2 linked regions of the Homo sapiens genome follow. The protein of the gene in region 2 purifies or fractionates together with the protein of the main gene of each other region. This does not show direct contact. Each region holds a gene or a part of one and is shown on either strand. Other genes may lie near its edges.

Region 1 (3,915 bases), on a different chromosome or scaffold from region 2:
TAAGCCAGACTTTTTAAAAAACAGTCTGGTTTAACACTAAGTTTTAAGATCTGTTGAGACAGGAAAATAAAAATCTTGAAAGATGAACATGCCCTAAATATTTTAAGCAAGTTAAGTTAGTCAAATGAATTTAACCAAAATGTGGGATTTTTTTTTTAAAGTCTGTCACAACATCCATACTATAGGGGTCAAAAGGCCTGTTTTCTGCCCCTGCATCTGCCAATTAAGTGATACATGCAGTAAGATGATTTCACTGTATTTGCTTCTAAGTTTACTATCTGTAAAATGAGAAACATCATTCCTAATCTCAAGGCAGCTGTAGCCATCAAAAGAGATGATATATGGGAGTGAGAAAGAAGGCAGAGAAGATGGTGAGCCAGTAAGAAGATGGTGAGCAGGGTAAAGAAGACGGTTGGGGGAAGGTGGTGAAGACCGTGGGGGAAGGTGGGGAAGAAGACAGATCGTGGGGAAGAAGATGGTGGGCAGGGTGGGGAAGAAGAGGGTGGGGCTGCGTGGGTGGGTGGGGAGGAAGAGGGTGGGGCTGGGTGGGTGGGTGGGGAAGAAGAAGGCGGGGCTGGGGGTGGGTGGGAAGAGGGTGGGGCTAGGGGGTGGGGAAGAAGAGGGTGAAGAGGGTGAGGAAGAAGAGGGTGAGGAGCGTGAGGAAGAAGAGGGTGAAGAGGGTGAGGAAGAAGAGGGTGAGGAGCGTGAGGAAGAAGAGGGTGAAGAGGGTGAGGAAGAAGAGGGTGAGGAGCGTGAGGAAGAAGAGGGTGAAGAGGGTGAGGAAGAAGAGGGTGAGGAGCGTGAGGAAGAAGAGGGTGAAGAGGGTGAGGAAGAAGAGGGTGAGGAGCGTGAGGAAAAAGTTCGGTGGGGGGAAGGTGAGGAAGAAGGCAGTGGGTGAGGAAGAAGGGGGTGAGGAGGGTGAGGAAGGTGGGGAAGAAGAGGGTAAGGAGGGTGGGGAAGAAGAGGGTGAGGAAGGTGGGGAAAAGGACAGTGCGGCGGGGGGAAGGTGAGGAAGGAGGCAGTGAGTGGGGAAGAAGGCGGGGAAGAAGATGGGCAGAAGGTGGGGCATAAGTCAGTGCGGGGGAGGGGCAGGAGGGAGGGAGAAGATGTGGTGTGGAAAGGTGTGAAAACAGATAGTGGGGAAGGCAGGGAAGCAGACGGTGTTGGGGGAAGGCAGGGAAGACGAATGTGAGCGGGGTGGGATAGATGGCACATGCTTTAACCAAGATAAGAGGGGGCCTTGGCCCTGGGCCCCATGCTTTAGAAAGACTTGCTTTTTTTCAGCCCTCCTCAAGCTTTAGTCCTTCCCACAGGCCAAAGATTCTGTAGGATCTTCTAGAACACACACCAGGACACCGGGAGCTCTGAGATTTCCTACCCAAATGGCTCCAAAACTGCTTCCAGGGGAGTCCTGCTGAGAGACGACCTTGCCACCAAGATATATGCCGCTAGGTGTGTGGGATGGCCAAGGGGGTGTTGGGTGGACACATAGGTACAGAGCTTGGATATGCAAGCTGCCCTATCCACACACATGCACCCCAGGTCCCCAAAGGGGTGGAATGGAGCCAGCTTGCCCGTTCCTCCACTGCATGGAGAGGAATGCGGAGGAATCTAAGAGGTGATCAAACGCCAGCTATGGAGAGAGATGCAGAGGAAAGCGAAGACATATGCACTGGCATTTGTAGAAGGGCCTGGATGGGGGTGAGGAGCACACGGAAAATGGTCTGAGGCCATCTATGCAGTTCCTGAAGAAGCACCTCGGGCAGCTACTGACACTCCCAGCCCAGCTCTACAGGGGTGGGTACATGGGTGGGCTGGGAACAGGGTGTCTGTCCAACAGGCGGGTGTTGAGGGCCCAGAAGATGTCAGGGTAGCAACAGGAGGAATCTGGTGCAGTATGAGCACACGGCCGTCAGCTGATAGTGGGAAGCCAGTCAAGTGCCGCGAAAGCAGGAGGCGGGGCCGCGGCCAACGTCATTCCCGCGGCCGCACGTCACCGCCACTTGCCGCATCCGCAAGATCTCTCTGGACCAGCTCGGGTGCAGGGCCTCTGCGGGAGCCCTCCTAGACCTCTGCGGCTTCTCCTCTAACATGGCCGACTCGGAAAACCAGGGGCCTGCGGAGCCTAGCCAGGCGGCGGCAGCGGCGGAGGCAGCGGCAGAGGAGGTAATGGCGGAAGGCGGTGCGCAGGGTGGAGACTGTGACAGCGCGGCTGGTGACCCTGACAGCGCGGCTGGTCAGATGGCTGAGGAGCCCCAGACCCCTGCAGAGAATGCCCCAAAGCCGAAAAATGACTTTATCGAGAGCCTGCCTAATTCGGTGAAATGCCGAGTCCTGGCCCTCAAAAAGCTGCAGAAGCGATGCGATAAGATAGAAGCCAAATTTGATAAGGAATTTCAGGCTCTGGAAAAAAAGTATAATGACATCTATAAGCCCCTACTCGCCAAGATCCAAGAGCTCACCGGCGAGATGGAGGGGTGTGCATGGACCTTGGAGGGGGAGGAGGAGGAGGAAGAGGAGTACGAGGATGACGAGGAGGAGGGGGAAGACGAGGAGGAGGAGGAGGCTGCGGCAGAGGCTGCCGCGGGGGCCAAACATGACGATGCCCACGCCGAGATGCCTGATGACGCCAAGAAGTAAGGGGGGCAGAGATGGATGAAGAGAAAGCCCACGAAGAAAAAAGCCTGGTTTTGTTTTTCCCAGAATATCGATGGACTTAAAAAGGCTCAGGTTTTTGACCAAAATACAATGTGAATTTATTCTGACATTCCTAAAATAGATTAAATTAAAGCAATTAGATCCTGGCCAGCTCGATTCAAATTTGACTTTCATTTTGAACATAATAAATATATCAAAAGGTGTTAAAGAAAACTGAATTAAACCCAAAATTATGTTTTCATGGTCTCTTCTCTGAGGATTGAGGTTTACAAAGGGTGTTAGCAGATGCGAAGTAAAGAACGTCACTTTGAAACCCATTCATCACACAGCATACGCTACACATGGAACACCCAAGCCATGACTGAACACGTTCTCAGTGCTTAATTCTTAAATTTCTTTACTCATGACATTTCGCAGTGCAGAGAAGGCAGAACCCAAGAAAAACGTCATCTTTGAGACTTTGCTTTTGTAACGCAGACATCAGCTTTACACTTCACAGGAGATTGATGGCATTGAGGAAGATTGCAATGGAGATCATGACACTACTGTTAATAAGGCCAGGAAAACTGCCATTTCAAGTTCTGAAAAATGTTTTGAGTATTTGAATTTAGAGAAACAACATGGTTCCAAGAAGGAGGGTGTAAAACCTGTAAAATACTGTCAACATATGTATTCATTAGTTACAATCTCATGTTTGTGTTTTCTTAGTACTGTCTATTTACAAACACGTAAAAAATACCCCAAATATGTTTAAGTATTAAATCACTTTACCTAGCGTTTTAGAAATATTAATTTACTTGAAGAGATGTAGAATGTAGCAAATTATGTAAAGCATGTGTATCCAGCGTTATGTACTTTGCGCCTTGTGACGTCTTTCTGTCATGTAGCTTTTAGGGTGTAGCTGTGAAAATCATCAGAACTCTTCACTGAAGCTAATGTTTGGAAAAAATATATACTTGAAGAACCAATCCAAGTGTGTGCCCCTACCCCCAGCTCAGAAGTAGAAAGGGTTTAAGTTTGCTTGTATTAGCTGTGCCTTCATTATTTTGCTATGTAAATGTGACATATTAATTATAAAATGGTGCATAATCAAATTTTACTGCTTGAGGACAGATGCATACAGTAAGGATTTTTAGGAAGAATATATTTAATGTAAAGACTCTTAGCTTCTGTGTGGGTTTTGAATTATGTGTGAGCCAGTGATCTATAAAGAAACATAAGCTTAAAGTTGTTTATCACTGTGGTGTTAATAAAACA
Region 2 (3,915 bases):
AAAGATAATCCACAGTATGAAGAGAAAGCAGATGGAAGACTGCATGCTGTTGGCCAAGCATAGGTCCAAGAGGAGGTGGTAAGGAAACTTGTGCAGAAGCTTCTCACAGGACAGAGATTAGCCAGACTGGAACCTGAAGGATCTGGCGCTCTCCACTGGCTGCCTTGGTGGGCCTCGAATTCCTCTACGGGGCCCTTCACCCATCAGGTAGTATTGTAGGGGATTGGGCCACAGTTCTCCTTTGATAATCTCTGCAATTCTGTCGAATTCTAGAAGGCTGTGGTCTGAAAACCAGTTGAAGAAACTAGGGATAGTGTTCCCTTCCCGGTTTCTGTGGATATGAGCCTGGGGGTCTTGGCCTCGGTGCCAGCGGATTGGAGTGGAAAGAGACACCACCCGGCCAGAGGATCTGCGTTCATATTCCTTGACAAGCCCCTCATTTCGGAAGTAGGGGTTGCCCTGAAAGATGAACTTGAATTTGCAGCCTGCTCTGGGGTGTTTAAGCTCCTCCACCTCCAAATTGATCATGTACCTCAGCATGTCTTCATCTTGGCCACTGATCATAGGTGACAGCTGGGGGTGGTTTCGAAAGGCAGTAACCCAGAAACCTGGGATATTCTGGATAATGAAACTTCTGCGCTGCATGTGGAGCCTTCGCATGCGGCCAAACTTGCGCTCAAGCTGAAGGAAGGCCCTGTCAGCCTGGGCATTTACGTTTGACAACTCTTGATCGATGGCCTCCAGTGAGTCCATGCAGTTATTGATCTTCGGGGCCCTGGGCCGTGTCTCCTCTTTCACCCCTCCTGCCACCTTTTTTTCCTTCTGCACTACCTTCTTTTCCTCCATCGCCGCCCCTGCTTCTCCCTCCTTTTCCACTGCTGCCGAGATGGCGCGTTTTTTAGTCGTCACTTCCTTGGCCTTCTTCCCCGGTATCATCTGAGACCCCAAGCCCCCTGCGCCACAGGCTTCTAGAGCCTTCTGCCCAGCAGGGCCACGGGGCTCTCCAAGCTGACAGCCATTTTTCTGGCTGCTGTCAGCAGCCTCGGCGGCAGAGGCTGCTTCCAGACCTTTCGTAGAAGGTGGAGCATCCTCCTGCCCGGCTTTGGTCGCTGCACCGCCGCGACTCCCGGCAACTGGGACGCGGAGCGCGGGGCCACAGTCGACAGGATCCTGGGATGCACCCCCCTCCGCAACGGTCTCCAGGCTGCCCCCACCTGTGTTCGCCATCACCTGTGTCGCCTCGGTTTCTTCACGGAGCCCTTGGCACTGGTCTCGGTCCGGATCTCCTGAGGCATGGTCGGGAGCAGCCAGGCCGCCGGTTTGGGCGAGAGGGAGCTTGTTGCCCCCATCCAGGCCGCTCATTTTGGAAGAAGTCAGACTAGTGGGAGAGGGAGAGTTCCTTGTCCTCCGCAGCGGCCGAGCTCTGCCCGAAACGTCTAGCACCACCCCTCCTTTACTCTCGGCGGTGCTACCATGGCAACTGGTGATGTCAGGGCGGTAGCGTCGTAACATCGCGCGAGAACTCTCTGCGCGGTTGACTACGCTTATCAATCCATCGTATTCCTTTGTCTTCTTGTCACAAAAAGAATTTCGTCAGTCTGGAAGGGGAGTTTTACTTACGTAAATGGATGTAGACCAGACTCAAGCATGTAAGAACTGTGTTAATGTGGATTTCTAAGCCTCTGAATGAATTTCTAAGGCACCTAACCTATTGTTTCTGAAAATATTTACTTTAAGGTGAGTTACTGTCTATTCAAGTCAGTTCATAGGGCTTCTCCTGAGTAGGAAAGTGGATTCACGAACTCACAGGCCTTCCTTCTTTTAAGGTGTGGATTCATGGCTATTACCAAAGAATTTAAATGAGCAGAGTTTGATTTTAAAGAGAAGTGTTGCTGTGTTGTTATTTTTAAAATTAAGGAGCAGCTGAAAGGCAAACTTCTCTCATCCTAACAAGACATAATAAAGGAATATTTCAATTTGTCTTACAGATTTTAAAGTTTATATAATTTGGCCAACATCTACAAAACAAGTGGACAATATTTCCTCTTCACTTTTAACAAAGAGTAGCAAAATGTTTTTCCTTACGTAGAGGTGACTGGCACACGAGCACAAATTTAGGCTTTTAAGCATTACTGAAAGAAATATCTCAGGGGATTTTAATTTCTAAACTGATGCATATGTTCTTTTCCTCAGGTTACAATCTTAATCTAAAAGTGGTTCCTGCTTCATAATGCCTGTGGACATGAAGCTAACAAATCTTTTCAAAATGTGTTCATGTGGTAATTCACTGCAGCACAGGAGCAATAATCAGCTATGTGCAGGCATCTATGCTACTGTCTCTTAAAATACTTTAAAAGTAAGGTTAGTTATTGTCTATTCGAGTCAGTTAGCTCTTACAATTCATTTGATAGTGATTATCAGTACAATATATTAGTTTGTTGGAGTGTGAGAATAATGGTGTTAATCCTTAGAAAAATGCAAGACCAAAGGGAAATTTAAATTTTGCATATTTATGTTTAATGTCAAATTTATATTCAAATAAACGGTTATGATTATAACTCTTTGTAAAAGAAACTCCATTTTAAGCCCCCCAGATTATGATCACTTTCAAATACAGGCTCAGAAGTACAGATTTAGAGAAAAAGGATTCCTCTTAGAGGAATACATCATATATACTGAGACTTCTAGCGAGGGAAGGAGTGTAGTTCTGGTTCAACTAAGATAAAGTACTGATGAAAGGTCACTGGCAGACAATACGGAGAAACAGCCTGCCTTGCAGGATTTTTTGTATGCCTAGTCAGCCTACCCAAGGACAATGTGTCCAGAATGACCTCTTTACTGCCTGCCAGCTAATCAGTTATCCCATAAGAAATATGCAAACAAGATTCACACAGCAGAGAGCAATTATTTTTCTCTCCCTCTTTCCTCTTTGTCTTAATAAACGCTCTTTTTTTATTTGTGGGGTGAAATCAATCTATTGAGGTATCGTCTTTGTAAACACATAAACAGCGTGCTATAATTGACTTTGTGACTTTGAATTATTGACACTGCTCTGTTTCTTTTCCAAAGAACCTTTGCACTGTTGAAAGAGTAACTTTTCCATTATAACCTGAGTCAAGATGAAGAGAAGCAGGGAATACTGAATGAAAGTTACTTTTCCATGCAGCAGGAAAAAACAAGTTTGCTACTATACAAATTTATAGAAAAGTATAAAATTACATGTGAACTTCTTTTTCTTTTTGTGTGTGCCAAAGTTTTTTAAAGATTTATATCTCTACTACTCAAAGCATTCCCATCTCTAGCCTGTATTAGTTCTGTCACCTGAATCATTTTTCACTCATAACCACCTGGCCATTCTTTAACACTCAGTTCATGTAGATTGTACTAGGCAGTTTAAATACATTAGATTTTATAAACAAAGACCCAGTGAGCACAGAGCAGTTAACATGCCCATGGTCACATATGTATTAATTGGCAGATTGCCTCCTCCCACCTTATTACTTTACCTCCTTCCTTAATTACTTGCCATTTTGACAGTCTTCTGATTTCTGTATAGCCCTTATGACTTTTACTATCCAACTTAGTACAGTTACGTTTCACTGAATGACAGGGATTTTGTCATTATGGAAACATCATACAGTACATCTATCAAACCTAGCTGCAATAGCCTACTATACACCTAAGCTAAATAGTATATCATATTGCTCCTAGGCTACAAACCTGAACAGCATGTTGCTGTACTGAATACTGTAGGCACTTGTAACATAATGGTAAGCATTTTTGTATCTAAACATAAGAATGATACAGTAAAAATAGAGTATTACAATTGTATGGTCCCACACTTGTATATGCAGTTCATCTTTGACCAAAATGTTATGCAGCAAATGACCGTACTTATTTATCCTCTACTTTTTA

Evidence for each region.
Region 1: the proteins of TSPYL4 (region 2) and NAP1L5 purify together in Homo sapiens (affinity purification with mass spectrometry; 4 studies listed by BioGRID and IntAct, with this or other methods). This does not show direct contact.

The regions. Positions count from the first base shown.
Region 1 is NC_000004.12:88,695,931-88,699,845, reverse strand, and holds the start of NAP1L5 (nucleosome assembly protein 1-like 5), read left to right. Parts: upstream 1-2,016; 5' UTR 2,017-2,091; coding exon 2,092-2,640; 3' UTR 2,641-3,915.
Region 2 is NC_000006.12:116,252,647-116,256,561, forward strand, and holds the start of TSPYL4 (testis-specific Y-encoded-like protein 4), read right to left. Parts: upstream 1,430-3,915; 5' UTR 1,363-1,429; coding exon 118-1,362; 3' UTR 1-117.